2 separate regions of the Homo sapiens genome follow, and region 2 is linked to region 1. A link means that fine-mapping ties the variant in region 1 to the expression of a gene that starts in the linked region. Tissue or cell type: whole blood. Region 1 holds a variant in brackets; the other region holds the start of a gene. All regions are shown on one strand. Distances are between the middles of the regions.

Region 1 (2,689 bases):
AATTAATCTAATGAAAATATTCACACAGTATTATGTAGGCAAATATGTTTAAAAAAATATTTTAATAAGCATATTCAGAATGGCAGACAAGGAATGGGAGAAGGGAATTATTTTACAGTGCAAAATTACTATGCATAAATTTAACATCTAATTTGAAATTTTAAATGCCTATTTAAATATTACTTCAAATACATTTTAAAGCTCAACAAACTTGTGTTGAACTGAATTGCAGATCCTGAACTCTATTTGAAAATACATCATGAAACAGAAAATACCCATTCCAAATGAAAATGATAGTGCTTTGTTGGGGGTGGGAATGAGGCGGGGAGACTAAATCACTATTAACAGACTTCTTTTTCCAATGCAATTTGTCAAAAGTTCAAAAGTTCTGAAATGTACTAAATCTTAAGCAAATTAAATTCATGATATTACTAAAACTTTTTAAATAGTGCAATGACTTATCAAGTTATAGTGGCTGCATTAAGAACAAATTATTGTGTGAAATACCTGTATAAACACAAAATACAATTAAATATTTCTTTACAAAAAGCTGAGCATTACGCATAATAGTGGAATGTCTTTCATTAGGTGTATTTTTTAAAGATTAACAAAAGTAACATTTCCTAAAATGTATACATGTGCCATATTTTTGCAAACATGCCTGAGAATGTATTTAAAACATTTCTGTAGTAAGAGTTTGCAAGAACTTCACAAACCTGCAAATAAAATGCATCTTTTTAAAAAGGTGAAAATGGCATCTCCAACACTGCAACAATTCAAAAAGTACAGCATCCCTAATCTTTAAAAACATTTCTACAGACCATCTTTGACAAAGAGCTAGGATACTTTGGATTCATTTAATAAAAAATGATTTAGAAAACAGATTGTGACCATCTGCTTGCTAAAGCTACTGCCATTCTGGATAAATTAAAAGTTTTAAGTAAAACAAAAACAACAAAAAACTCATACTTCTCAACACTTCCACCCAAAACTTTGATTTACTTAGATATGTATGTAACAACAGTGAATGTACATTAAGATGAAGTCAAGTGTTGCAAAGTGGCTTTTAACACTGTTTGGGAAAAAAAGTTGTTCACATTGGTGAAGGGAAGCAGTCCGAACATATGTTAACAGTAATACTTCATGGGGGTAAGGCCTGAATGCTAATTTCTCAGTGCAAACCTTCACTCAATTACATCAGACAGTTGAGCCATTAAAAACAAGACCACAGAAGCTTTATTTTAAAAAGGCATTGGCTCTTGAACTGATGGCTGAAAAATGAACTGGAAGAAGCATTTGGAGTATGCCTGTGTGAGAAAAACAAGAATAATTAATATTTTATAAAAGTTTGGATATAGGTTGGTCTATCAGCTATATAAAACTACATTATTTAACAAGAATTTAGCACTAAAAATAAAATGGCACTTTTACAAGGCTATGCAGATGGATAATCCTATCTGTAATCACACAGAGCAATGATTATTGTGTATCTTATTTTCACTTTGGAAAAGCATTATCAAATCTGAAAAATTGGATTGTAACTAGAAAAGTTTGAAAAGTTT[T/C]CAAACTTCACTTTCTCTTCATAAAATCGATACTGCCTGCCAACAGTTGTTCCTTGTGTGTGCCAATATCTAAGTATCACTTGACCCCCCTCCTCTGTTTATTTAATGCAGAAATGGGAAATTTTATGATGCATATAAAAATAACAGGATTCTGGTCAGCATGATATATTTAAGCACTTAAGCTGACATTAAACTTTTGTCTTGCTTCAAAAATAATTTTGAAAATTATAGCAAATGCAAAACAAACTGCAATCTAAGCATCATGCTTAATTTCAGAATTCTCAAATTACTTGCCCTTAAGTAGAAATTTAAAAAAAAAAAAAAAAAAAAAAATTTTATAATCCTTTATGAATGCTTTAACCACCTGGATAAGAAATATGACTTAATTACTACACAAACACTTAAAAATTCATTAGAAAAACCTTAGCAAAATAAAATGAAAGCTGACAGACTCAGAATAACAATTCCTCTCATAAAAGTTTACCAACTGTACAAGTTAAGAAAATTATACACGCTTTTGTATTAAGAAAGGACAGCTCAGTCAAGACATATGTACTGTAAAAATCTTTCAAAGGCTACAAAGAATCTGGAAAAATACAGAATGTATTTCTTAAGCCCAGATAAGAATATGGAAAGACATCATTGATGTCAACAATTTTACATATACAAACCTGACCTGGTTTATTTTTAAACTTCTATATATAAAAAAATCATGCTAGCATAATTTTCAGGATTCGTAAGGGTTTCCTTAATAAAGATACTCAAACTGTTTGGTGAGAAAAATGTCTGTTTTAAAGACATTTCAAGAAACTCAGAGAAATTGGTATTAAGCAGAAATTTGGACTTGAGTTTCCCATTCATCCATCAAACTAAGCAAAAATTACCTTGTAGTGAAATTTTATGATTAATACATCAAATGAGAAGGTACAGATACATCTTTAGTTCATTCAGATTTACCAAAATTAGTAAATCTGAATGAACTAAAGATATTCAAATGAGAAGGTAGAGATATATCTTTAGTTCATTCAAATTTACTAATTTTTAAAATACCCTTAAAAGAGTCTGACAGCTTTAAAGTAAAAAAATCTGCAAAAGGCAGAATTATGAAACCTCATTTCCTAAAGTTA
Region 2 (2,689 bases), 68 kb before region 1:
TTAATGAAGTAAGTTCATCACGAAAGGACAAATACTACATGATTCCACTTATATGAGGTACCTAGAGTAGTCAAATTCACAGAGACAGAAAGTAGAACACTGGTTAACAGCAGAGAGGGAAGGAAGTAGGGAAACAGGGAGTGATTGTTTAAAGGGGAAAGAGTTTCACTTTGGGATGGTGAAAAAGTTCTAAAGATGGATTAGTGATGATGGCTGCAAAACGATGTGAATGCAGTTAATGCCATGCAATTGCATACTCAAAAAGGGTTAAAATGATAAATTTTATACTTTGTATATTTTGCCACAATTTATTTCTTTCTTTAAGATGGTCTTGTGCTGTTGCCCAGGCTGGAGTGCAGTAGTATGATCATAGCTCATTGCAGCCTTGACCTCCTGGGCTCAAGCCATCCTCCCACCTCAGCCTCCTGAGTAGCTGGGACCACAGGCGTGCGCCACCACATCTGGCTAATTTTTTTATTTTCTTGTAGAGAGAGGGTCTCACTTTGTTGCCCAGCATGGTCTCAAACTCCCGGGCTCAGGCATTCCACCTGCTCCCAAAGTGCTGGTATTACAGGTGTGAACCACTATACCTGGTTTACCAAAATATAAAAATAAGAAAAAAAAAAAAAAGAAATTTAAAAAGATACAGACCAAGCACTTAGAAAAATAATTCAAAGTTCTTCTTTCCTAATCTATTAAAGTTCAATACGTAATTTCTTTGCTTAAACCGATCATAATGATTTGCTTCTGTTATACAATAATGACTACCATTTACCGAAAACTAGCTCTTTGCTAGCTACACATCCACAGAGATCAGGTTCAGGGAGGTCATCTAATTGGTCCAAGACACACAATAAGGAGTGAGTGTGTTGGTGGGGGGGGGGGGGGTCGTCATTTCTAGGAATCCTACAATTGGAAATCAAGTCTTTTAGGCTCCAAACACCTTGTGCTTTCCCCAATCCCCAAGCTGCTTATCTTGCTACTTTTTGGGATATGTCAACATTTTTCTTAAAACAAACAAACGAAACTTCTCAATCTGAAAAGTATTGTTTGGTGTTTTCTGGGTTCAGAAAATGTAAGAAGCCTGAGGCATTGCGGAATGAAATTTTCGTTGAGTGTTTACTGTTGATCCACATCTGATACTTTTGAAGGGTTTTTACCCCCTGCAAGAGAGACTAAAAGAGCATTCAGAATTAGTCTAGACGCAGTGTACTGTAACTACTTGGCCGGCCACCTGTAACAGAGGGGAGGAGGGTCTGCACTTAGTTGCGGCAGTTATCCGGAGAATACGGCCTTCCAGCCCCTCTGCCACCAGACTCCCCACGCCCCAGGTACGCGCCCCGCGGAGAGACCCAGCGCGTGCTCGTGCGCAGGCGCAGGGCGACTGTCACCCGGAGTCTGTGGTTTGTCGCCCGGCGCTCTGGTGTCTCGATGTAGTTCCCCTGGCTTCTCCTTATCCGCCTCGGGCAGGGGGGTCGCCACTGCCCCTTCTCCAGGCTCTCTCCAACCCCTGCCCAGGCTAAGCCCGGCGCGGCCCTACTCTCTGACCCCGCGTTGCACAATGCCCGAGCAAAGTCTCCAGGGGTGTGAACCCCGGCGTCCCTGCCCCTGGGCGGGGACAGGCGGCGGCCAAGCGGGGAGTCGAGGCGGCGAGCGCGCAGCTGGCCTAGTCTGCGGTCCCCAACTCCTGGAGTCCCCTGGGAGCTGCCGCTGCAGGCCCCCGAGCCGCTAGGCCCCGCCGCCAGGCCACCGCTGCTGCGGCAGCCATGGCGGAAGTTCATAGACGTCAGCATGCTCGGGTTAAAGGAGAAGCCCCCGCGAAATCCTCCACACTCCGAGATGAGGAGGAGCTGGGGATGGCGTCGGCCGAAACGCTGACCGTGTTTCTGAAGCTGCTGGCCGCCGGCTTTTACGGCGTGAGCTCCTTCCTGATCGTGGTGGTGAATAAGAGCGTGCTCACCAATTACAGGTAGGGCCGAGGCGGCGGCGGCCCAGGCCGCGGAGGAGGAGCGGGCGGCGGCGGCGGCGCGGCGCCGGCTCCCTGGACTTTGACTGCCAAAGTTAAAGCCGAACAAAGTTGGGCGGGAGCTGGGGAGGGCGGGCGGCTGACGCGCGCGGCCCGGGCAGCGGAGCCGGCCTGGCGAGCGGGCCTGTGGCAGGGGTCCGCTCCCTGCGCGGAGCTCCGGCCGGCCCGGCACATTTGGGGCTCGCCTGCCATGCCCTGGGCGCACCGCCCCGAAAACCCTGCCCTTCAGAGAGATGGAGCAAAGTGATTTGCTTGGTGACTTTTGAGCCGTTATGCCTGTCGATCAGGGAGGAGAGCGAGGGAAGCCTCCCTCCTCCGCAGCCTGGACAGGGGGCCGGGGCTTCAGTGTCCCCTGCACCCGCTGACAGCCTCTGGGGACGTACGCATCCTCAACCCAGCAGACAATTATTCCCTTGCTAACACTGGGACCCAGAGGCAGAAGTTGGTTGTTTTTTTTTTTAAGGTGTGTGAAATCGTTGCAGAGATCTGTATCTGCACTGCCTTGAGAAATCCTTTGCAGGCAGCGGACTGAAACTGTAGACTCGGACAAGATGGGACAAGCGGCCGCCCGAGGCTACATCAGCGGGGTGGACTGACAACCAACAGGCAGAGAGTTTTCTCCCAAGATTTTTGTTTGATTTAGGGGCGGACGTTGATGTGGCT

The links. PIP is the estimated chance that this variant, and not a neighbour inherited with it, causes the effect.
Region 2: it holds the start of SLC35D1, and the variant in region 1 is fine-mapped to the expression of SLC35D1 in whole blood (TOPMed, PIP 0.94).

What each region holds. Positions count from the first base shown.
Region 1 is chr1:66,985,021-66,987,709 of GRCh38, reverse strand. It overlaps MIER1 (MIER1 transcriptional regulator), which reads right to left. Exons shown (of 14, transcript NM_001077700.3): 14 at 1-2,689. It also overlaps a transcript of SLC35D1 not described here. Among named protein-coding and RNA genes, the nearest start is that of MIER1, 61 kb to the right of the region's middle. The variant T/C (reference allele first, on the strand shown) is at 1,563.
Region 2 is chr1:67,053,091-67,055,779 of GRCh38, reverse strand. It overlaps SLC35D1 (solute carrier family 35 member D1), which reads left to right and starts at 1,632. Exons shown (of 12, transcript NM_015139.3): 1 at 1,632-1,969. The coding sequence starts at 1,767. RefSeq lists silencers at 1,528-1,717, 2,008-2,217.